Linked DNA regions of Homo sapiens. The protein of the gene in region 1 purifies or fractionates together with the protein of each later gene. This does not show direct contact. Each region holds a gene or a part of one and is shown in the gene's direction. Other genes may lie near its edges.

Region 1 (3,500 bases):
ATCGTTGCATTGGGAAACCAAAGGAGGTTTGTCTTCTCATTTTGTTTTTTACTTTCAACTTCTTTTACCTCTTCTGTTTGGCTCTCTCCCAAGGTATATTGTGGTTGCTATGTTAATGCCTGATTGGCCGGGCGCGGTGGCTCACGCCTGTAATCCCAGCACTTTGGGAGGCCGGGGTGGGCAGATCACTTGAGGTTGGGAGTTTGAGACCAGCCTGGCCAAGATGGTAAAACGCCGTTCTTACTAAAAATACAAAAATTAGCCGGGTGTTGTGGCGGGCACCTGTGATTCCAGCTGCTTGGGAGACTGAGGCATGAGAATCACTTGAACCCGGGAGGTGGAGGTTGCGGTGAGCCGAGATTGCGCCACTGCACTCCAGCCTGAGTGACAGAGCGAGACCCTGTCTCCAAAAAAAAAAAAAAAAAAAAAATGCCTGATTAAATTATAAATACTCTTAATCAGAGAAACTTGATCAACTTTGCTAATAATCATTTGCCCTGACTCCTGTCTCACACTATACATAAAAATTAATTCTTTAAGTATTATAAATCTCAACGTAAAAGGTAAAACAATTAAGTTTCCAGAATAAAACATAGGAGAATATTTGTTATGACCTTAGGATAGGGAAAGATTTCTTAAACAGAACATAAAAAGTACTAGCCATAAAAGAAAACATGGGTAAATTAGACTTTATTTAAATTAAGAACATCTAATCATCAAAAGGCACTATTAGGAGAGTGAAAAGGCAAGCTACAGACTGGGAAAAATTTACGAAACGTATTTCCGGCATATATATATATAAAATGTATTTCCGGTAGAACATAAAATGAACTCCTGTAAATCTGAGCAACAGGCAGACAGGCCCTCCAAAGAGGACTTGAATGCCCATTTTATAATAAGAGAAGACATCTACTTCACCAGTCCCCAGCCTTTTTGGCACCAGGGACCAGCTTTGTGGAAGACAATTTTTCCACGGACTAGGGGGGTTGGGGTGGGGTGGGGTGGGGAGAGAAGGTTTTGGGATGATTAAAGCATATTACATTTATTGTGTACTTTATTTATGTTGTTATTACATTGTAATATATAATGAAATAATTAACAACTCATGTAATGTAGAATCAGTGGGAGCCCTGAGCTTGTTTTCCTGCAACTGGATGGTCCCATCTGGGGGTGATGGGACACAGTGACAGATCATCAGGCATTAGATTCTCATAAGGAGCATGCAACCTAGATCCCTCGCATGTGCAGTTCACAGTAGGGTTTGTGCTCCTATGAGAATCTAATGCTGCTGCTGATCTGACAGGAGGCTGAGCTCAGGTAGTAATGCAAGTGATGGGGGAGTGGCTTTAAATAGAGATGAAGCTTCAGTCGCTTGCTTGCTGTTCACCTCCTGCTGTGTGGCTCAGTTCCTAACAGGCCGTGGAGCAGTACTGGGGTCCCAACCCATGATTTACATGTTCAACAGAAATAAGAAAAGGTGCTTAGCATCATTAGTCTCCTGAGAAATGCAGATGAAAACCACAGGGAGATTATTTTTAGCCACCAGATAACCACCATAATGGCTAACATTAAAAAGACAGAGTACCAAGTATGGGCAAGAATGTAGAGTGACTGGAACTTTCATACTTTGCCGGTAGGAGTTTAAATGGTAAAACAACCCAAACATGCATACCCAATTCTATTCCTATGTACATACCTGGGAGAAGTGAATGCATGGTGCACCAAGAAAGATGCACAGGAATGTTCATAGCAGTTTTATTTATAACTGCCAAAAAATGGAGGTGGAATATCCATAAACATTAGAATGGGACTGTGTAAATTTTTCACACGGTGGAAGACACATGAGTTAAGAAAAAAACTGATAATGCAATGGTAGGATTGACTCCCATAGACATAATGATGTGCCGGACACAGAATACATACTTTGTGATCCTGTTTAGAAAAAGTTCATGAATGGACAGAATTAAAATATGGTAAGAGAAGTTAAAGTAGTGCTGATCTCTGACATAGATGGGAATCTATTAGGAGTTGTCATGAGGGAGCCTTCTGGGGTGCCAGAAATGGTTTATTGGTGTGGGTGGTGGTTACATGGATAGGTACATATGTACAAATTTGTTGTGCCACACGTGTAAGATTAGCACACTTTCTTATATATATGTATACATCAGTTAAAACTTCCTCTGAGCAGAAGATACTTTTTAGGTCCCTTTGAGATCTGACTTCCCAACTGACACAAATAAATATCTGGCTGCCTCCCCTTGGATTCCTCGGTTAGAGACTGAGGCACAGCTCTCATCTGGAGCTCTTAGAGACTCCACTTAGAGTTTGTACTGCAGAGAGAAAGTAACCCTGAAAAGTGGGGTGATTTTCTAGTAGCTGATTGAGCAGGGCAGATGTCATTTTATAGCAAGACCCTCCCCAGTCCCAAAATCTATCCCTCTCCTCCCATATCTATGGGAAATGCTCTCCCTCATTATAAACCAGTATTTTACAAATACCTTTTTGAATACAACTTGTTAATAACTTGATGCCTGAGTATTATTAATAATTCAGTACAGATGAAATAATTGAAATGTTACATTATCTTTGCTTTTGTAGACTGTCATGTTTAAGTGAGGATACATAATAAATCATTTTTATTTTAAGGACCACAGAATACTGGCCATGGTGCAACTTCTGGTTTTGGCAGTGCTTTTACAGGACAACAAGGATATGAAAATTCAGGACCAGGGTTCTGGACAGGCTTGGGAACTGGTGGAATACTAGGATATTTGTTTGGCAGCAATAGGTAAGCTTTTTGCATTGATCTCACTTGCTCTTTAATTCAAGAGGCTTGTTTTGCTTACAATTTAACTGCATTTAGTTTTGCTAAGGAAAATAAATTGTGGTGACGTTAGCCTATTAAATAAGATTCTCTGGGAAGGGGGAAGGTACACTATATTTGTTTTGATCAGTATTGTGTATGTTATTTTCTTTCACTGTGTTTCTTCCTGTGTCACCTTCATATATATTATGAGATAAGAAAAAGACTGTTTAGTTGACATCTGAGAAAATAAGAAGGCAGGAAAGAAGACAGCATTTGGGGAACAGTCTGGTTTGGTAGGAGAATGATAAAAATAAGGCTGGAAAGAGCTTGGGGCCAGATTTTGGAATATGAAGTATTAATGGTAGTTTAAGTTTAGATTTTATTCGAGTGCAAATTCAGAAAGAGCATTGACTCCCTGTCACTTTTCCCCCATAGCAGTGACCATAATAATGGCAGAAATATGAAACGGTTTTTATTTCATGTTAACTCTGATATACCAGAACATTCAGGAAAAAATACTTGATAAAGATATTTTTTTCTGACAGTTTAGGAACAGGAAGGTATTTAAAAATTATAGCCACAAGAAAAAAATGCCTAACCTACTTTTATCCCTTTAAAGAGCGGCAACACCCTTCTCAGACTCGTGGTACTACCCGTCCTATCCTCCCTCCTACCCTGGCACGTGGAATAGGGC
Region 2 (3,500 bases), on another chromosome or scaffold:
AAAGTGGTAACTATCACCCTGGATAAAGAGATGTCCTTTTCTGTTTTACTTCATCGTGTTTGGAAGAAGCATCCCGTCAATGTTGACTTTCTGGGAATCTACATACCCCCTACAAACAAGTTCTCACCTAAAGCCCACGGACTAATAGGTAAAGTGTCTATTGACCATCTGACAAGGGTGGGGCCGCTCTAATTCTTTAGCAGCTTTGGTTGACAGTGGTTACAAGTTGAGGACATGGCAGGTGTGGACTCATGAGCACAGAGGACTAACATAGCAGTGTGGGGTCGCTCGGGAATGTGACAGCCAGGACCTTTTGCCATTCCAGACAAGGTTGTCCAGGGCCAGGATTTCAGCATCACAAACTGGGCAAGTTAAGAGAAGGGACAGATACATTTTAAGTTTTATGTTAAAGATTTTTTTCTAACTGAAGCAAGATGAACCCATTTAGGAGGTCTGTGATAACAAGCAGAACACTCTGGACAAATGTCCCTAGTATTTTAAGAAGGGCTCAAATATAAAGCCTGTGACATCACAAACAAAACTTTTTCCTGTGATCTGAGCTATACTCTCAGGTGCTCACCTCATTCTCCTGCCATCAGGGTGCTCGATTTACTTACAATCCACTAGACCAACCTCATGTATAAAATGACCATGAGCTCCAGGCATGGTGGCTCGTGCCTGTAATCCCAGCACTTTAGGAGGCCTGGGCAGGTGGATTTGCTTGTGGAGTTCAAGGGCAGCCTGGGCACCCCATCTCTACCAAAAAATTAGAAAATAAAAATAATTAGCAGGGTATGGTGGAGCCTGCCTGGAGTCCCAGCTACTCAGGAAGCTGAGGTGGGATCTCTTGAGCCCCGGAATTGGAGGCTGCAGTGAGCTATGACTGTGCCACTGTGCTCCAGCCTGGGTGACAGAGGGAGACTCCATCTCTTAAATTAATTAATTCATTAATTTATGAGATGGAGTTTCTCTCTTGTTGCCCAGGCTGGAGCGCAGTGGCGCAATCTCGGCTCACCGCAACCGCTGCCTCCCCGGTTCATGCGATTCTCTTCCCTCAGCCTCCCGAGTAGCTGGGATTACAGGCATGCACCACCACGCCCAGCTAATTTTGTATTTTTAGTAGAGATGGGGTTTCTCCATGTTGGTCAGGCTGGTCTCAAACTCCCAACCTCAGGTGATCTGCCCACCTCGGCCTCCCAAAGTGCTGGGATTACAGGTGTGAGCCACCACACCCGGCCCCAAATCTTAAATTTAAAAAAAAAAAAAAAAAAAAAAAAAAAAAAAAGGCTGTGAGTAGTGGCTCACACCTGTAATCCCAGCACTTTGGGAGGCTGAGGTGGGTGGATCGCTTGAGTCCAGGAGTTCAAGATCAACCTGTGCAACACGGTGAAACCCTGTCTCTACAAAAAATTAGCCAGGCGTAGTGGCTCACGCCTGTGGTCCCAGCTACTTGGGAGGCTGAGGTGGGAAGAACACTTGAGCCCAGGAGGTGGAGGTTGCAGTGAGCCGAGATAGCACCACTGCACTCCAGCCTGGGCAACAGAGGGAGATCCTGCCTCAAATTAAAAAAATAAAAATAAAAAAAAGATGGTGAGCAGCACAAATGTGCTCCCAGGAAGGACCCTCCCTCCCATCACCACTCCTTTTTCCTCTCAGCTTGTCTTTCCACCCTAGAAATCCTGGAGGGAGGACCGAAAGGTAGCATGGAGTCAATAATGAGCCTCTTTTTATTTAACTATGATTACATGTCAATCAATGTCTGATTCTGTTTTGCTAGGCCAGTTCATGCAGGAACCAAAGATACACATCTTCAATGAGAGACCAGGAAAGGACCCTGAGAAGCCAGAGGCCAGCATGGAAGTGAAGGGGCAGAAGCTGATCATCACCAGGTAGGCCTCGGGCGTAAGGACAGTGACGAAAAGGCCTTGTGTTAGAATTAGACCCACACAGCAAAATAGAGGAGCAAAGAAGAAGTGTCGTAGGCACTACCTACATCACACTAAGCAGTTCATTAGGAATAGACGCACACAGCATTCGCATAAGGACACTTCTGATATCCCACGTTAAATGCAAATAATGACTGGGTATCTAGGGTCATGCAATGCCAAGATTAACTAACCTGTTGTTCTCATCTTCATACTTTAGAAGCCCTCACAAGAGCTTCACAAGTTGGATAACCAGACACGTTGATCAAAGGAGAGAATCATAAAACACCTATTACCATAGTGCTGCAGAATGAATGTAGATTTTTACATCAGGCTAGAGTTTTCCTTTTGCACAGGGATCTCTGACTGCTTTTTTTGTAGCTTTTCTTACACAAACCACCCCCATATGCTTCATCTGAAGTGAGAACTTAGACGCTCATAACGCATTCTGAGTGTAAAAGTCTTACAAATCTTGATATTTTTTCCCAGTCCTTTACAGTTGTCTCACCCATGCCAAATTTGATACCGTTTTAAAGCAGCTTACCCCTTTTTAGAGTTTTTACAAAGCAGCCAACTTTGCTTTATTAGAAAGGATTCTTCACGCCCACAAATGTCATTGGCTTTGACATACTTAATTAAACCATAACATTGTAACATAAAATTGTAGTCGGAAGTATTGCCACGAAAGTAGATTTGTGAACTGAAACAATGGATTCTTAGTGAATATGCCATTCAATTAGTATCAGTTTATGGGAGGAATGAGGTACCGACGGGAATCAGTGAGCATGTGTCACAGAAGCAATGGTGAGCACAAATTATTAATGTTAATAGTAAGTTATCTGAAGTTGGTAGAAGGGCATTTACTGCCAGGCATGGTGGCTCATGCCTGTAATCCCAATGCTTTGAGAGGCCAATGTGGGAGGATCACCTGAGACCAGGAGTTCAAGACCAGCCTGGGCAACATAGTAAGACTCCATCTCTACAAAAATAAAAATAAATATAAAAATAATTATCCAGGTGTAGTAGATTCTGCCTATAGCCCCAGCTACTCAGGAGGCTGAGGTGGGAGGATCCGTTGAACCCAGGAGTTCGAGGATGAAGTGACTTATGATTGTGCCTCTGCACTCCAGCTTGGGTAACAGAGAGAGACCTGTCTCATAAATAAATACATAATATATAAATAGGCCAGGCGCAGTGGCTCACGCCTGTAATCCCAGCACTTTGCAAGGCCTGGGTGGGTGGATAACCTGAGGTCAGGAGTTCAAGACCAACTTGCCAACATGTTGAAACCCCCCCCATCTCTACTAAAAATACAAAAATTAGCCGGGTGTGGTGGCGGGCGCCTGTATTCCCAGCTACTCGGGAGGCTGAGGTAGGATAATCACTTGAACCCGGAAGGCAGAGGTTGCAGTGAGCAGAGATAGCACCACTGCACTCCAGCCTGACTCCATCTCATAAAATATGTATATATATTTATATATACATATATAAATAAATATATGTATACATATATATATATATTTACTATAATGACAAAAAGTAAATGCTGGGCCTCGATTTGGTCCACTGCAAGCA
Region 3 (3,500 bases), on another chromosome or scaffold:
CTGTTTCACAGAGAGCTGATTGGTCCGTTTTGACAGGGTGCTGATTAGTGCATTTACAATCCCTGAGCTAGACACAGAGTGCTGATTGGTGTATTTACAATCCTCCAGCTAGACAAAAAAGTTCTCCAAGTCCCCACTAGATTAACTAGACACAGAGCACTGATTGGTGCATTTACAAACTTTGAGCTAGACACAGGGTGCTGATTGGTGCATTTACAAACCTTGAGCTAGACACAGAGGGCTGATTGGTGCATCCAAGAACCCCGAGCTAGACAAAGAGTGCTGATTGGTGTATTTACAATCCTCCAGCTAGACATAAAAGTTCTCTAAGTCCCCACTAGATTAGCTAGACACAGAGCACTGATTGTTGCGTTTACAAACCTTGAGCTAGACACAGAGTGTTGATTGGTGTGATTACAAACCTTGAGCTAGACACAGAGTGCTGACTGGTGTGTTTACAATCCTTTAGCTAGACATAAAAGTTCTCCAAGTCCCCACCAGATTAGCTAGATACAGAGTGCTGATTGGTGCATCCACGAACCCCGAGCTAGACACAGAGTGCTGATTGGTGCATATACAATCCTCCAACTAGACATAAAAGTTCTCCAAGTCCCCACCTGATTCAGGAGCCCAGCTGGCTTTGCCTAGTGGATCCCACGCCAGGGCCATGGGCGGAGCTGCCCACCAGTCCCATGCCACAAGCCTGCACTCCTCAGCCCTTGGGCGGTTGATGGGACCAGGCGCCATGGAGCAGGGGGCGGCGCCCGTTGGGGAGGCTCGGGCAGTGCGGGAGCCCACCACGGGGTGGGGGGCTGGGCTCTGGCATGGCGGGCTGCAGGTCCTGAGCTCTGCCCCACAGGGAGGCGGCTGAGGCCCGGTGAGAATTTGAGTGCGGCGCAGGCAGGCTGGCAGTGCTGGGGGACCTGGCGCCCCCTCTGCAGCTGCTGGCCTGGGTGCTAAGCCCCTCACTGCCCAGGGCTGGTGGGGCCCACTGAGTCTGCGCCCACCTAGAACTCACGCTGGCCAGCCCGGGTTCCTGCCCCTCTCTCTCCCTCCACACCTCCCCGCAAGCAGAGGGAGCCAGCTCCAGCCTCGGCCAGCCCAGAGAGGGGCTCCCACAGTGCAGCGGTGTGCTGAAGGACTCCTCAAGCATGGCCGGAGCAGACACTGCTGAGGAGGTGCTGAGAGTGAGCGAGGGCTGCTAGCATGTTGTCACCTCTCAGTGGGGCCATTTGAGGGTGAGTTGAGCTGTCCATGTGCTTCTTGCATTTGGGGCTCACACAGGGGCCTAGGTGGCTGGATCACTCACCTTCCCAGAGTTTGTTGGGCAAAGGATGTCTGAAGATGATCTGGGAGCCAGGTGGGGCCACATGGGAGGAAGGGCTGGCCTAAGGGCGAGGGCCCCTGGCAGCAGAAGTAGGAATGAGCAGCCAGCTGAAGGAAGGTGAGTATTACTAACACACCCATGTGAGGTATGAAGATAGTTAATTCAGTCCTTTCCTCCTGCTTTGGTCTTGGAGTGATGTGAAACTAGCTAGCAGTTGAGTGGATGGTGGAGAAATAGAAAAGAAGTTTACCTTCCCCCAACCCCAGCAGGAGACCAGCATGCAGCAGGACATTGCAGAAATAGGGCAGATTTGTGTTATAATGGGTCAGAGTTTCTTTTGTTTCCAAAGATTAGACATTTTAATTCTTTTAGGTTTTTATATTTCTTATTTATTTATTTATTCATTTGAGACAAAGTCTCACTCTGTCTGTTGCCCAGGCTGGAGTGCAGTGGCATGATCACAGCTCACTGCAGCCTCAACCTCTTGGGCTTAAGTGATCCTCCCATCTCAGTCTCTCAAGTAGCTGGGACTACAGGCACAGAACACCATGCCCAGCTAATTAAAAAAACTTTTTTTGTAGAGACGTGGTTTTGCTATGTTGCCCAGGCTGGTCTTGCATTCCTGGGCTCAAGTGATCCTCCTGCCTCCACATCCCAAAGTGCTAGGATTACAATTGTGAGCCACTGTGACTGGCCTCTTTTGGGACTTTGAAGTTGTTGCATGAGCAGAAACATCATGGGATCTACTCAAGTATTTGTTTGAGGGCAGGGAAGATGAATCCCTTGAGTGTATTTTGAGGCGCAATAGAAAACCAAAATACAGTTGACATTTGAGCAGGCCCCACAAGTTGTGCTAGCTCAGAGTAGGTAACATATGCTTGGGTTAAAATTAAGTAGAGTAGCAATCTGTGTTTATTGTTACATTTACTTTTGACAAAGGAAGACTTAGAGGCAGAAGCAGTTAGAAAAGGAAAGAAAATGTTTACTTCCCCAGAGTGCAAGGGAGTCAGGCTTTATAAGACTGGCTCATCAAATAAAATCACAATAAATACTTGAAAGAAAATATTCCACCAAATTACCAAAGTTCTCCATTTACATTAGTCTGTTGTTCATGACTAAAAACAACTTTCTTACACAATTATCTATTCCTAAAAGTCGTGACTTGTTTTCAGACATCAGCATAGCAAACAATCAAGGGAAAAAATTATTTCTTTAAGGGAATGAGATGTGTTTGAAGTTTTATTTTGGAGACCAACTTTCAGGCAGGATGATCATGTTATTTTTGCTTCATGTCAGGGTACAAAGTGATTTTTTTGCTTGACTGGAGTATGAGAAGTGCTTAGTCCTATTGGAGAGGTGGAAACTGTGCATTTTCCTTGCAATCATGATTCTGCAGTCCCTTATAGTATTGTTGAGATATGAAGTAAAAAAGCAGAAGTTGAGACTAGCTTTATGAGATGCTAAAATTATATATGTTAAAATCTGAGTTTAATTGTTGCTCGTGTTTCTGTTATCAAGACCTGTGTAATTTTTGCCTCACTAGAGAACGTTAGTAAAATTTCATAACCCTTCAAGTGAAAATAGTTTGTAAGCTTCAAATAATTCTCCTGCAAGGTGCATTTGTTTTCCTCTTGCATGTTCTTGGTAATAGCAAAAATAACAATCACTGGAAGGCAGAGCAGGCTGAGGGAGGGGCTTCTTAAGGATTAGTTTTGAAGTTGCCTGGTTTAACAAGAGAGAAAAATTAGGAGCTGAGTGAGAGAATGTGGTTGTAAACGTTTTCTGTCTTTCTACAAACCTTTGTATAGATTATTTCAGGAAATATAATTCTATCTTCTGTGGGGAAAAAAAGAAACGAGAGAGAAAGAAACAAATTTAAGATCAACTATCTAATATAAAACCTACACCATATTCCTACCAGTGTGATATGATTTGGCTGTGTCCCCGCCTAAATCTCATCTTGAACTGAATTCCCATAATCCCCATGTGTCGTGGGAGGGACCCACTGGGAGGTAATTGAATCAGGGGGTTGGTTGCCTTCATGAGTTTTCATGAGACTGATGGTTTCATAAGAGGCTTTCCCTCTCTTCACTCTGACTTCTCCTTGCTGCCGCTATGTAAAGAAGGATGTGTTTGCTTCCCCTTCTGCCATGATTGTAAGTTTCCTGAGGCC
Region 4 (3,977 bases), on another chromosome or scaffold:
GATGAAGAGATGCTGCAGGGTGTGTCAGCGATTTCTTCTCTTCTCAGGCTGCATCTGGGGCTGGGGATAGGAAGAGGAGGTGGCACAGAATTTCAGGGAGGGAGGGACAGAGTACAGAGCAGCAGATGGAGCACAGAGAAAACAGGGAAAGAGGACAGTGGCAGGGAAAAGAGAGCTGTCCCTGGCATGAGGGGTCACAAGACACCTGTCAGATGAGGACTGAAATGTGTCCATCCAATATTTTTGTGCTTTCGTTGCTGTGAGTCACTAAGTACATAACCTTGGGCAAAGCACTAAAAGTAAGCTTTACCGTCTTTAAAAGGGGGAAGTGTTGTTGAATGTGCCTGGGACAATGTCTGGCATATAATAAATGTTCAGGCTGGACTCACGCCTGTAATCCTAGCACTTTGGGAAGCCGAGGCGGGTGGATTGCCTGAGCTCAGGAGTTCAAGACCAGCCTGGGCAACACGGTGAAACCCTGTCTCTACTAAAATACAAAAAAATTAGCCGGGCATGGCCACGTACACCTGTAATCCCAGCTACTTGGGAGGCTGAGGCAGGAGAAACACTTGAACCCACGGGGTGGAGGTTGCAGTGAGCAGAGACTGTGCCATTGCACTCCAGCCTGAGCGACAGAGTGAGACTCCATCTTAAAAAAAAGAAGTTCAACACATGTGGGCTGTTTACTCTTGGTTCAGGGAAACCATTGCAGAGGAAAAAAAATATTGTGCTAAATTATCAGGTGGTGCTGTTCAATATAGTAGCCGCTAAGCCACCTGCAGTAATTTACACTTAAGTTAACTGAAATGTAGTAAAATTAACATTTTAGTTTCTCATTTGCACAAGCCACTGTTTAAGTTGCTCAGTAGCCACACATGGCTAATGGCTACCGTACTGGAGAGTGCAGGTCTAGGATCTTCCCAGCATCACAGGAAGTTCTGCTGGACTTTGCTGCTCTAGGGCATTATTAGCAGGGCTTGCATCAGGAAGTGCTGCTGAGGAGGTATTCCGGACAGTGAGTGGGTGGTTGATGAGCTTCCATTGCTACTGGACGTCTCCTGTTGGTTTCTGCCATAGACTCCCTTGCTGACTGCTTTTTCACCTCTGCACCCACTTCACTGGGGGCTCGTCTATCTCCTTGCATGTTTTTAGTGCTGGACCTGCTCAGCTGGGAGGCTTATTTCAAGAGCAACCTGGGTTTCTTGGCTAGGATGTGTTGACCTTTTTAGCAGAAATTAGCAGTGGTTGGAGGAAGAACGGAGTCTCCCAAAATGGCATCTAGGAGCAGAGATGCAGACACCATGGGCTTGTGACCTCATTGTTTCCTTTTCCCTACTCCACAGGTGGATAGAGGTGTTCATCCCCAGATTTTCCATTTCTGCCTCCTACAATCTGGAAACCATCCTCCCGAAGATGGGCATCCAAAATGTCTTTGACAAAAATGCTGATTTTTCTGGAATTGCAAAGAGAGACTCCCTGCAGGTTTCTAAAGTGAGTTGAATGAAAATATTTGCAAAAAAGTCCAAGCTGGAAGCACCTGCAGAATTAATCACATGCTCTTATTTCGTTGATAAGGAAACAGAGGCCTGAAAGGTGAAGTCAGGGTCTTCTGCGGCCAGAAGAACCGAATCTTGCGGCCTATGGCCACCATCCCTCTGGCATGCAGCATCTGTTATCCCTCTTCACACAAATGTTCCGAAGCCATCCTCAGCAGTCAGGTGCTCCCCCATGCCTGCTGCAGGAGAGCAAGTGCTCCCTCAGGATCTGACCTCACTTTCTTCCTCCCTGAAGTTTAGGCCCTCACACAGGCATCACAGTGTGGCTGCCCATAGGTCATCTGCACCCTGTAGATGTGTTGTCTGGCCTTCAGTGTGTAAGGAGAGAGAGAGAGAGAGAGAGAGAGAGAGAGAGAGAGAGAGAGAGAGAGGAGTTTTAAAGCATAGTATATTAGATCTAAAAGTCTAGATTTCTGATCCTCTTGAAATAAATCACTAACTCTAATTCCCACATGGCAACAGTGAGCCTATGTGTCCACATGGCAGCCATCACAGGAGCTGAGCTATGAGTGCCCCTTTTAACCAGACAGTATCCTCCAGGTAATGTGGGCACCCCATGCTCTTACAAGAAGTCTCCGTCAGTTAATTGGGGTTACCTGCCTAGCCCCTGCACACATATGGGTTACTGATCCCTGACCTAAAATTTTATTTTGATAGTGGATTATAATAGAAGTGATCCTGGGGCCACTGAAGGGGACCTTTGTCATTGGTTTTCAGAAAATGTTGAGAGGCCCCACTGGAATATGATGAACATAATGGACATTTTCTCGAGGAAAGTGTATCTGTGAGCCTATGAAAAATAATGCCTGTAGTCACAGGAGCTCAAGCCTCCCTGAAGCTTAGAAATCCAGGAACTCCAGGTTAAGAATCTCTTCCCTAGAAGACAAAGAAGGGATCTAACCTTAGTCATATCAAACCCATGTCTGCCATGCAAGAACTGCAGCAATTACTACTGCTGGCAAGTCCACAAGCACTTGCTTTGTATGATCTCTCTTAATTTACACAATAACCTTACGGGGCATATGCAGTTATTATTACCTTTTATAGATCGGGAACCTGAAGCACGCAGCATCTTAATAATTTTGCAACCATAAGTGGCAGAACTGAGACTCACTCCGGTCTTCCTGCTCTGTGTTTGTAACCATCTCAATCCCGGTGTAAGGACCAATGGGCCATAGTCAACACCCACTGCAATGTATTGAGTAAACCCAATGCCAGGCATTTGAACCTTGAATCCTTTCAAGGTAGACATCACCATTCCAGGGCAAAAGCACTCAGTTTAGTTTACTCAGTTAAGTAAAAGTGTCTCCACTAGGGCCACTGATGTTTGTTTTTCCCTTGGCAGGCAACCCACAAGGCTGTGCTGGATGTCAGTGAAGAGGGCACTGAGGCCACAGCAGCTACCACCACCAAGTTCATAGTCCGATCGAAGGATGGCCCCTCTTACTTCACTGTCTCCTTCAATAGGACCTTCCTGATGATGATTACAAATAAAGCCACAGACGGTATTCTCTTTCTAGGGAAAGTGGAAAATCCCACTAAATCCTAGGTGGGAAATGGCCTGTTAACTGATGGCACATTGCTAATGCACAAGAAATAACAAACCACATCCCTCTTTCTGTTCTGAGGGTGCATTTGACCCCAGTGGAGCTGGATTCGCTGGCAGGGATGCCACTTCCAAGGCTCAATCACCAAACCATCAACAGGGACCCCAGTCACAAGCCAACACCCATTAACCCCAGTCAGTGCCCTTTTCCACAAATTCTCCCAGGTAACTAGCTTCATGGGATGTTGCTGGGTTACCATATTTCCATTCCTTGGGGCTCCCAGGAATGGAAATACGCCAACCCAGGTTAGGCACCTCTATTGCAGAATTACAATAACACATTCAATAAAACTAAAATATGAATTCATCTGTCAACAGAGTCCTAATCTGAAAATGATTTACTAGCGAACTCGCGATGGCTGGGCTGTCATCCCATGACATCTCAGAGGCTGCATGATTTTTTTCCTTCATTTATTCAGCAAAAATTTATTGAACACTTAACATATGTTAGGAGTAAATCAGACAGACAAGATTCCTGGCCTGTTAGGCCTAAATGGGGGAGACAGACCCCCCTACAGCAACAATGAAACCAGACCTATAAACATGATCGTAAGAGCTTATGATAAGTGCCATGAAGGCATTGAACAGGATGACTGAGAGTGAGGATAGGACAAGGGAGGGGTGTGAGCATGAAGGCTGTGAGTCAGGAATGAGTGGCATGTTGGAGAGACAGAGCAGGGACCTTGTGGCATCATGTGTGGCAGATGGAAGAAATGAGAACACAGAGGCTCAAAGAGGTCGGCTGGTGGAGGCCATTGTTAGCCAAGGAGAGAGTCTGGGTTTGTGGGGAGCGCCGGGACACCGGCTGACGAGGG
Region 5 (3,500 bases), on another chromosome or scaffold:
TGGATGGAATTTCCATAGGAATTATTTCTAACAATTTCTGCTGTGAAACATGGTGCTAAGAAATGACTCAGGAAGATCTGTCACCAGACATTTGAAATTAAAGCAAAGAGTTCAGAAAGATGCCTTACCTCTTACTCAAAGGAAAGATACTTACAGATATACCATCCATTGGAATCTCTGTATTTTCACAATCTAACCCAGGGCTTCGATGGATGGATGGATGGATGGATGGATGGATGGATGGATGGATGGATGGGCGGGTGCATAGATGGATGGGTGGGTGGATGGATGGATGGATGTGGTAGTCAAATGGGTAAGTGCGTAGGTGGGAAAGTAGATGGGCAGATGATGGAGGTGATGGAAGGAATAAGTGAACAGGTAAATGGAAGACAAGACTGGATGGGACTAAACTCTTTTTCATCCTGGAGGATCTCTGAGTCTCCCTCTAATTCAATACCTATCTCCAATATCCCTCCATTCTCTACCATTCCTCCACCCAAAACACACTTATGTCCATGTTAATCATCTGAGAAATTCTGCAGGGCACAAGTTTAAAGAGCCTTCAGGCAAGCCCTGAACTGGAGGCTTGGAAATCAAGGGCTCAGGCACTTGGTTATCTGGTTTATTTCACAATCTGCAGAGCATCGTGCGGGTTTTTCTAAACCTGACGCTCTGAGCCCCATGGGCCTGTGGACTTGCAAACACCCTGAACTATCAATATGCTCAGCTGGGCCCCTGCCCTCTAAGTTGCTGTAAGTCCCAACTCCCCAGGAAGAGGGCAGACTGAGCTCAAACCATTCCTCAGAAAGGCAGAACCATGCTCAGCCTTCCAACCTCATCTGCACACTCTGAAGGTGGTGCATGCAGCTCCAGGAAGCCTTTGCTTCAGTGTTCTTTCCCCTCCTAACTTTGGGTGAGTTTGTCCCTTCCTGCTGCTGGTGGGTGATGCTGGAAGGAGCTGGGTGTGGCTGGGGCTGCTGTCTGCAGTCAGATGGCACAGACAGGGACAGGAAAGGTTTTGTGGCTTCTCCCCACAAGCTCTGGCTCTGGCTACTCCACCCTGTTGGCCAAGGGGCTGAAGGGCAGAGCACTGGCCTGCAAGGGCTGAGCAGATCTCCGTGCCCAGGGAAGGGGCTCACCCTGTCAGGGCGGGCTACCAGATGGGCTGGGAGCCTGCTCTGCCCTCCCTGTCCCTGCCTGCTTTGAGCAGGCCTGGTTCTCTTGCAGATTGAACAGGAGGGTGTCACAGTGAAGAGCAGCTCCCACTTCAACCCAGACCCTGATGCAGAGACCCTCTACAAAGCCATGAAGGGGATCGGTGAGTGGGTGTTGGCAGCCTTGCCACCTCTGCTCAAGACCCCTCCGCTCACAGCCCTGGAAAGCGGGTGCCAGGGGACATCTGGGGAGCTGGGGTGTCCCATGATACTCTGAAACTGATTCCACTACCCAGAGAATCACACAGCCCTCTGTTTCTGCAGTGAGGTCAGCACCCACCCTGCAAGACTGGACAGGAGGGTGCTGCTCTTCCCTGGGTAATGGGGGTGGGGAGGTGAGCTGTGTGTCTCTGTGAGTGACTTCCCATCAGTCTCAGCTTTCTCACTTGTAAAGTGGCCCCAAGAATTCTTGGCCTTGTGTGTCACATGAAGTGTGAAGGGGGTGGTGCTTTATGATGCCAGGCACAGAGCTGCCAGGGGTGTGAGGTGTTGGGAGTTTGTGGGGCTGATTCAAGGCCCCCTTGCCCCATGTCGATGGCCATGGAGCCGGCTCCCTTCCCATCTCCTGCACTTGCCCAGTGCTGCCCTCAGCACTACCGTGAGTGGGCGAGGGCTGGCCTGAGGCCAGATTTAAACAGCTTGCCCAGAAAGCCCTCCTGACCTGAGAGCAGAGCATGTACCCTGACCTCACCCCAGGTGGGACTGACCCCTTAGCCGGCTCTGCCTGAGGATCAGGGGCCTTAATGAGAACTGCCGCTCCTGACAAGCCCAGAAAACGTTCTCATGCCCTCTGCTTTCTGTGAAGCAGAAAGTTATCTCCACTTCCCAAATGAGAAAACGGAGGCCCAGGGAAATGAGGCTGGCTGCCCAATGCCACGCAGTTGCTGGGCCAGGCCTCGGATTCAGGGGTTGGACTCTTAGTCTTGACCTTCCCCTACTGCGACCAACACAAAGGAGGGCAGGGCCAGAGATCTCACTCGGCCAAGCTCCAAAGGCCCGGGCTGATGTCCAGAGCCACCCAGACCTCAGATTCCATCTTGTGAGGCTGGCCTTGGGCACGCCCCAACATTGTGGGGGTGTGGGGTGGGAAATGGGGAGGCAGATTTCCTAAGGGTCTTGTTTACACCACGAAAATGGTCTGGGGGTTTGGAACTATCCAGGTGTCGGGTCCCAACTGCTCAGCCACCAAGCAGCTGCCTTCGCCTTCCCCTCCTCCGCCCTCACCAGTGTGTCACCCTGGGGGCAGCAGGGTCACTTGTGCTGTAACCCTGCAGGGACCAACGAGCAGGCTATCATCGATGTGCTCACCAAGAGAAGCAACACGCAGCGGCAGCAGATCGCCAAGTCCTTCAAGGCTCAGTTCGGCAAGGCAAGGGGAAGGCTGGTGGGGGTGGGGATAGGTGAGCCTTGGGGTTGGGGGTACAGCCTGGGAGGCAGCTCCATTCTGGACGACTTTCCCCTAGAGCCAGCCCACTGGCAGCATGGGCACATGGAACATGTTTGCATGAAAACAATTGTTCTTTATTGAAATTCAAATGTAACTGGCTGCCCTGTGTTTTATCTGGCAGATCTACTTTTAGGTGTCAGAGCCCGGGCCGGGGGCTGGCCTTCCTTGCTTCCTTTCCTGCCTCCTCTCTCACAGCATTCCTTCTCATGCACCCAACAGGCCCCACTGGAGGTCTGTCTCCCTGCCCCCAGGCTATCTCGCCCTGCCCTCTGAGCCCAGACCACCTTCTCTTTTCCATGCCCCAGGCATGCAGGCCTGGCTTTGCTCTGTTCTGGGGCGTGGGCATGCTTTCCTCAGTCGAGCTGCTTGCACCCACACCTCGTCCCTTCTGCCACCTGGGAATTCTAAGAGCCTGGAGTAAGCATGCCAGGCCCTTTGTTTCTCCTCCCACCTGCACTCCACCCCTAGGACAAAGCCTGACATTTGGGGGTACACAGTAAACACAGGATTAAATATGTGCACAGCCATGGTTGCCTCAAGCCTCTAGTGACTCATATCATTAGTTTGGAGATGTAACGAAGGAAGATCAGCTCAAATATTCTCTTGGAGAACCCAGTATGCATTTTTACAGTTTCCCTCTCTTAGTCCTCACAGTGATACATTCTTTGTATTCAAACATTTGGGGAAACTGGCACTCAGAGAGGTTTTAAGTTGCCCAAGGTCCCAGAGCCTGTAATCAACAAGGTGGGGATTAAAATCCAGGTCTGACAAAGCCCTTGATCTCTCTGCTGCTCTGTAGATCAGCTGATGTAGCCTGGTGGCTCCTCGTAGCAACATGT
Region 6 (2,924 bases), on another chromosome or scaffold:
TGGGTTGTAGAGGGCAGCAGGGCTCAGCTGGGTGGCCCCAGGAGAGGCGAGGCCCTGAGAGAAAGGCTTTCTACCCTCCAGGCTTTGGCTCCCTTGGCCTGATGACGTCCGTCCTGGTCTGCCCTGATGGGAAGACGATTGAGGCTGAGGCCGCTCATGGGACCGTCACCCGCCACTATCGGGAGCACCAGAAGGTGAGTGCAGGGCATGGGGCCTCACAATGCCCCTCTACCCCAGGGGCCTAAAGCCCACTGGGCTGAGGGCTGGAAGGACGAGCCTGACCCACCAGCCCAGGGGCGGGCAGCTGTATCTGGGCAGCCTCCTCACTAGCTGGCTCGGCTCTTGATCTCCCTGCAACCCCCGTCCCCAGGGCCGGCCCACCAGCACCAACCCCATCGCCAGCATCTTTGCCTGGACACGTGGCCTGGAGCACCGGGGGAAGCTGGATGGGAACCAAGACCTCATCAGGTGAGCATGGAGGGAGAGGCCGGAGCTGCCCAGGACAGGCTCTGGGTCCTGCCCTTGCACAGATGGGGTCTCATTCTGCCCCATCCCCATAGGTTTGCCCAGATGCTGGAGAAGGTGTGCGTGGAGACGGTGGAGAGTGGAGCCATGACCAAGGACCTGGCGGGCTGCATTCACGGCCTCAGCAAGTGCGTGGCCTGGGGTGGTAGGCAGACCCTGGGGCCATGTGGGAGGAAGCCAGGGGACCCCTCCTAAAGTCCCCCTCATGAGTCAGCTTAGCTGCAAGGGGGCCTGGGGCAGGACATGTCCACAGCCCTGAGAGACTGCTCAGGCCAGCCTCTGTAGACCAGGTCTAGTGAGTTCCTCCCCATCCCTGAGGCTGGCTACTCAGAGCTCCTTCCGACCCTGCCCACACCCCTTTCCCAGCTTCTCTCAGGAGAGCAGTTACCTGGCAAGACAGACCCTGCGGGTGCCTGCCGAATCTCGGTGGCCTCATGGTAGGGGGCTATAGCTGGCCTCTGGCCTGTAGTCTGGGTGGCAGGAGATGGCTGTTCTGATGCCCAAGCTCAGGCTGTTCCCTGGAAGGGCCTGGCTGATGGCCTTGGCAAGGCCTGGAGCCACCCCTGATGTGAGTGGTGCTCTCTCTGCAGTGTGAAGCTGAACGAGCACTTCCTGAACACCACGGACTTCCTCGACACCATCAAGAGCAACCTGGACAGAGCCCTGGGCAGGCAGTAGGGGGAGGCGCCACCCATGGCTGCAGTGGAGGGGCCAGGGCTGAGCCGGCGGGTCCTCCTGAGCGCGGCAGAGGGTGAGCCTCACAGCCCCTCTCTGGAGGCCTTTCTAGGGGATGTTTTTTTATAAGCCAGATGTTTTTAAAAGCATATGTGTGTTTCCCCTCATGGTGACGTGAGGCAGGAGCAGTGCGTTTTACCTCAGCCAGTCAGTATGTTTTGCATACTGTAATTTATATTGCCCTTGGAACACATGGTGCCATATTTAGCTACTAAAAAGCTCTTCACAAAATTGTCTGCTGTGTTTGTCCCTGAGGGGAGGAGGTAGTGGGACCCTGAGGCAGAGGCCCTGCTAGAGCTGGCAGGTTCCCCTGGGGCAGACCAGAGCACCTCAGGAAGGGGCTGCCACGGCAGGGAAGGGACCAGGCAGCCCTGGGAGCCCGCATTCCACAGGGGCCCACTGCGGAGTTCTCGGACACTCAGGGCACAGGCCTGTGGGTTCCCTGGAATTTTCTAGCATGATCCAGTTTCTGTGTCCAGTTCTCCATTCTGAGAGTCAATCAGTTCCTGATAGGTTGTCATTGATTTTTTTCTTCGTTGGTTTTAACCTTCTAAACATCTCCAGGCCACTTTCTTAGCCTTTTTCTAGGTACTAAAAAGAGGTCCTACCCACACCTGCCTCACACTTCTCCTTTCCAAGGCTGCCTGAGTTTGGAGGGGCTTGGGTGTGTGTGAACAAGGGCCCTGCATTGTCTAGGCCTGCAGTTCCCAGGCTTGGGTTCACTTTCACCATGCATTGGCAAAACTAGAAAAGTAAGCTTGTGACAAATTGTTCTCGGCCGGGCACAGTGGCGCACGCCTATAATCCCTGTACTTTGGGAGGCTGAGGTGGGTGGATCACTTGAGGCCAGGAGTTCGAGACCAGCCTGGCCAACATGGTGAAACCCCATCTCTACTCAAAATACAAAAATTAGCCAGGCGTGGTGATGCGCACCTGCAGTCCCAGCTACTCGGGAGGCTGAGGCAGGAAAATGGCTTGAACCTGGGAGGCAGAGGTTGCAGTGAGCCGAGACTGCACCACTGCACTCCAGCCTGGGTGACAGAGCAAGACTCTGTCTCAAAAAAAAAAAAAAAAAAAAAAAAAAAAAAATTGCTCTATGCAAGTTTTTTAGCCCCATGTAAAAAGGAAAAATAAAAGTTGCTCTAAAGCTACATATAATCAAAAGGACTGTCCTCTGCATAGTAAGTTCTGCAAAGCTTCTTCTTTTTGGTGTTAAAATGTCCTGGAGAAGAGTTGTATAATCTTTATAAAGTCCTGGCCAGGTGTGGTGGCTCATGCCTATAGTCCCAGCACTTTGGGAGGCCAAGGTGGGAGGATCACTTGAGCCCGGGAGTTTGAGGCTGTAGTGAGCTATGACTGCACCACTGTACTCCAGCCTGAGTAACAGAGTGAGACCCCATCTCTCAAAACCCCATCTTACAAAGTCCCTTTCCTAAATACTGGGGGGACTCCTATGGCTCCTGAAACCCGACCATTGCGGTAGACTGAGTGGCTTTGGAAGGGCTCTAGCCCTCCATCCACACTGGTGACCCCCCGCTTGCTTTTCCTGAGTAATGCCCTGAAACTCTCAGGGCTATAAGAAGAAACGTGGACTGCTGGCTCTAGCAGGCCCAGCCCCTGGGAGGAAGCTCAAGGCTTCCTGCCTCTTCTTGCCTGTCACCAGC
Region 7 (3,626 bases), on another chromosome or scaffold:
TGACATCAGGTGATCTGCCTGCCTCAACCTCCCAAAGTGCTGGGATTACAGGTGTGAGCCACTGTGCTGGGCCCACTTATCTAACTTCTTTGCCTCAGTTTTCCCATCTGTGAGAGGGGATAATCATAGTTTCCACCTCACAGGACTACATGGGGGTTGAAGGACTTATTATATATAAAATGCTTAGAAGAGTGCGGAACTTGGTAAATTCTGTAGGTATTTACCATTGTGAGGCAGGGGAAGATAAAGATGGGGGGTGGGACACAGGTAGGGGAAAACAATAAGATGAGTATGTGGTACAGGTGGCTTAAGGTTAGGTGGATCCAAATAATAATGGCTCACCTTTCTTTATTTTTGCCATTGTAGTTTTAAAATAATGACAATATTTATGATTTATTGAGCACCTACTGCATACCAGGCACTGCCTAGATGCTCTGCATTTAGTAGCACTTTATTTATTTATTTGTTTTTGAGACAGAGTTTCACCCTGTCGCCCAGGCTAGAGTGCAGTGGTGCAATCTAAGCTCACTGCAACCTCCACCTCCCAGGTTCAAGCAATTCTCCTGCCTCAGCCTCCCGAGTAGCTGGGATTACAGGCACATGCCACCACACCCGGCTAATTTTTTGTATTTTTAGTAGAGATGGGGTTTCACCATGTTAGCCAGGCTGGTCTTGAACTCCTGACCTCAGGTGATCCACCCACCTGGGCCTCCCAAAGTGCTGGGATTACAGGCATGAGCCACCGCATGCGGCCCCAGTAGCACTTTATACACCAAAACAATCCCACAGGAGTGGATTTCCTCTCCATTTTATAGGTGAGGGAACTGAGGCTCAGAGAGGGGAAGTAATTTTCCCAGGGTCACACAGTTGGAGGACGGCCAAGCTGGGATCTGATAGCTACCATTTATCGAGTGGCACATGCACCGGGCGCAGACTTTTGTGTGCATGATCTCACTCTGTTCTCATGATGACTCTGGGCATCTATTACTTTGTGCATTGCATAGAACATGGAAGTTTTGCTCAGAGAGTCCAGCAACATGCTTAAGGCCACCTAGAGGGTGGATGCGCTGGCCAGGTGCAGCAGCTCATGCCTTTGGGAGGCTGAGGCAGGCGGATCACTTGAGGTCAGGAGTTCGAGACCAGCCTGGCCAACATGGTGAAACCTTGTCTCTAGTAAAAATACAAAAATTAGCCAGGCATGGTGGTGCATGCCTGTAATCCCAGCTACTTGGGAGGCTGGGGCAGGAGAATGGCTTGAACCTGGGAAGCGGAGGTTGCCACTGCACTCCAGCCTGGGTGACAGAGCAAGACTCTGTCTAAAAAAAAAAAAAAAAAAAAAAAAGGAGAGAGAGAGAAAGAGTGGATGTGCTGGAATATAAAGCAAGGTCTGTCTGACTCCAGAGTTTGTGCTCTAATAATAGCCTACACTTACATAGCCCTTTCCATATGCTGGGCTCTGTTTACAAATACTATCTCATTTAACTCCCACAACATCTATGATGTGGGTACTGTTACTCTTCCTATCACTTTTCAGATGAGGAAAACTGAGGCCCAGAGAGGCCTAGCCACTTGCTCAGGGTTGTACAGCCCATCAGAGGGCAGAGAGGGGACTGGAACCCAGGCCATGTGGCCCCAGAGTTCAGGCTTTCAGCTCTAACTACTGTCCCTGTTTTTGTCCCTCACAGGATGGGAAGATCGTAGATGATGTCTGGGTGGTGAGACCCCTGTTTGGCCGGAGGATGTACCTCTAGGGATGGCGGCAGCTCTCCTCCAGAAGCCTAGGTTTTGCCGCCTTGGCTGCTGTGACCAGAAACTGCCCAGGCCTGGGTGGGGAGTTGGGTGGGCCCTGACTCCCCTGCCCTCCAGAGGCCCCATGTAGGGTACATGCAGCCCTATGGAGCTGGGGCAGCTGTTCCCTCCTGGAGAGGTGGGAGTCCTGGCTGGCTGTGGAGGGAGGGCAGGTGTGCGGGCACAGAGTGACACACGGCAGGTTTCTGCTGGCAGGGCCCCACCCTCCTGCATAGCTCTGATCGGGCGAGGTGCCCACGGGGCTTCAGGAATGAAGAGGCTTAAGCTCTGGCTCCATGGATTCTGCACATCTGCGGGGGATGCCGCTGGGCTTCCTCCTCTCCTGCCCACCTGGCAAGGGCATCGCCAGGTGGGCACAACCGTCATGACACTACTCACCAGCAGGTGGCGTCAGGGGCTTTTTCTTCTGAGCCCGGCACTGAGAGTTGGTCTGAAGCCTGGCTCCTTCTTCACTGCTCCAGGACTGCTATGAAGAGTCCCTTCATGCCTCAGTTTCCCAGCCTGGCACCATCTTATTCGGGAAGAGGAGACGTGTTAACACTCTTGCCTCCTAGCTAGGACAGATGACAAACCGCAAGAGCCACAGACTTGCCAGTTCCTTCCCTCTTTCCTTCCTTTCTTTCCCTTCTTTTATTTATTGAATCATAATTTATTGAGCATCTACCATGTGCCAGGCTCTGTTCTCAGTGCTGGAGAGACAGCTGTGAATGAGACAGAGATCTCGGCCCTCACAGAGCTGACATCCTAACCAGAGAGTTGGACAAAAATCACGATAAATGAGTTGGTTAAATAGCGATTTGTGAGTAGAAAACGCAGGGACGGTGAGAGAGCAGTTTCAATTTTCAGGGGGATCTCACTGAGAGGGCAACATTTGATCTGAAGGAGGTGGGGAAGGAGCCAAGTGGGCAGACATCTGGGGGAAGAGCATTCCAGGCAGAGGAACAGCCAGTGCAAAGGCCCTGAGACAGAAATGTGCCTGGCCGGCTGGGTACAGTAACTCACATCTGTAGTCCCAGCACTTTGGGAGGCCGAGGCGGGCAGATCACTTGAGCCCAGGAGTTTGAGACCAGCCTGGGCAACACAGCGAAACCCTTTCTCTACCAAAAATATGAAATTTAGCTGGGCATGGTGGTGTGTGCCTGTAGTCCCAGCTGCTCAGGAGGCTGAGGCGGGAGGATGGCTTGAGCCCAGGAGGTTGAGGCTGCAGTGAGCCATGATTGCGCCACTGCACCCCAGCCTGGGCAACAGAGCAAGACCCTGTCTCAAAAAATATATATAAATAAAAAAGTTTTAAAAAGAGAAAAATAAACAAAGAAACGTGCCTGCCCTGTTGGAGTGTCCACGAGGAGGCCACTGTGGCTGGAGCAGGGAGAGTGAGAGGGAGACCAAGCTTGAGGACAGGGCAGTGGTGGGGATGGCTTGTATGGAGCCTTACAGGCCACGGTGAGGACTTTGGGTGGAGCCAGGGGAGGCTCTGAGCAGGTGAAGGAAGTGATCGGACTCCACGAGTCACAGGCAAAGGCCCCAGGGCTGACAGCTGCCCCAGGGCCTGCGGGCTCCCAGCCCTGCCAGATGACCTGAGATCTATCTATTCCCCCGTCATGGGGCGCGGTTTCTGCCTCCACAGATTTCATTCCCTCCCACCCGCCCCTCACTTGGCCCAAGGCACGCAGGACTCCTTGCCGTTCCTGGAACACAGCCAGCTCTTTCTCACTGCGGGGCCTGGGCGCTGGCTGTCTGCCCCCTGTGTGCCCTCTCCCCAGCTCATCCCAGGCTGGCGCCTTCTCAACCTCAGGTCTCAGACTCGGTGTCCCCTC

What was found.
Region 2: the proteins of SARAF (region 1) and ITIH2 purify together in Homo sapiens (affinity purification with mass spectrometry; one large-scale study listed by BioGRID and IntAct). This does not show direct contact.
Region 3: the proteins of SARAF (region 1) and MRAP2 purify together in Homo sapiens (co-immunoprecipitation; one large-scale study listed by IntAct). This does not show direct contact.
Region 4: the proteins of SARAF (region 1) and SERPINA9 purify together in Homo sapiens (affinity purification with mass spectrometry; one large-scale study listed by BioGRID and IntAct). This does not show direct contact.
Region 5: the proteins of SARAF (region 1) and ANXA8 purify together in Homo sapiens (affinity purification with mass spectrometry; one large-scale study listed by BioGRID and IntAct). This does not show direct contact.
Region 6: the proteins of SARAF (region 1) and IDH2 purify together in Homo sapiens (affinity purification with mass spectrometry; one large-scale study listed by BioGRID and IntAct). This does not show direct contact.
Region 7: the proteins of SARAF (region 1) and ACP7 purify together in Homo sapiens (affinity purification with mass spectrometry; one large-scale study listed by BioGRID and IntAct). This does not show direct contact.

The regions. Positions count from the first base shown.
Region 1 is NC_000008.11:30,066,065-30,069,564, reverse strand, and holds part of SARAF (store-operated calcium entry-associated regulatory factor isoform 1 precursor), read left to right. Parts: intron 1-2,646; coding exon 2,647-2,788; intron 2,789-3,425; coding exon 3,426-3,500. UniProt on the Homo sapiens protein: Negative regulator of store-operated Ca(2+) entry (SOCE) involved in protecting cells from Ca(2+) overfilling.
Region 2 is NC_000010.11:7,744,816-7,748,315, forward strand, and holds part of ITIH2 (inter-alpha-trypsin inhibitor heavy chain H2 precursor), read left to right. Parts: coding exon 1-148; intron 149-1,777; coding exon 1,778-1,889; intron 1,890-3,500. UniProt on the Homo sapiens protein: May act as a carrier of hyaluronan in serum or as a binding protein between hyaluronan and other matrix protein, including those on cell surfaces in tissues to regulate the localization, synthesis and degradation of hyaluronan which are essential to cells undergoing biological processes.
Region 3 is NC_000006.12:84,036,772-84,040,271, forward strand, and holds part of MRAP2 (melanocortin-2 receptor accessory protein 2), read left to right. Parts: intron 1-3,500. UniProt on the Homo sapiens protein: Modulator of melanocortin receptor 4 (MC4R), a receptor involved in energy homeostasis. Plays a central role in the control of energy homeostasis and body weight regulation by increasing ligand-sensitivity of MC4R and MC4R-mediated generation of cAMP.
Region 4 is NC_000014.9:94,462,221-94,466,197, reverse strand, and holds the end of SERPINA9 (serpin A9 isoform A precursor), read left to right. Parts: intron 1-1,343; coding exon 1,344-1,491; intron 1,492-2,901; coding exon 2,902-3,105; 3' UTR 3,106-3,477; downstream 3,478-3,977. UniProt on the Homo sapiens protein: Protease inhibitor that inhibits trypsin and trypsin-like serine proteases (in vitro). Inhibits plasmin and thrombin with lower efficiency (in vitro).
Region 5 is NC_000010.11:47,477,616-47,481,115, reverse strand, and holds part of ANXA8 (annexin A8), read left to right. Parts: intron 1-1,227; coding exon 1,228-1,318; intron 1,319-2,374; coding exon of another isoform or gene 2,375-2,488; coding exon 2,489-2,583; exon of another isoform or gene 2,584-3,500. UniProt on the Homo sapiens protein: This protein is an anticoagulant protein that acts as an indirect inhibitor of the thromboplastin-specific complex, which is involved in the blood coagulation cascade.
Region 6 is NC_000015.10:90,082,545-90,085,468, reverse strand, and holds the end of IDH2 (isocitrate dehydrogenase [NADP], mitochondrial isoform 1 precursor), read left to right. Parts: intron 1-81; coding exon 82-194; intron 195-370; coding exon 371-468; intron 469-560; coding exon 561-653; intron 654-1,115; coding exon 1,116-1,203; 3' UTR 1,204-2,424; downstream 2,425-2,924. UniProt on the Homo sapiens protein: Plays a role in intermediary metabolism and energy production. It may tightly associate or interact with the pyruvate dehydrogenase complex.
Region 7 is NC_000019.10:39,108,368-39,111,993, forward strand, and holds the end of ACP7 (acid phosphatase type 7 isoform 1 precursor), read left to right. Parts: intron 1-1,685; coding exon 1,686-1,751; 3' UTR 1,752-3,126; downstream 3,127-3,626.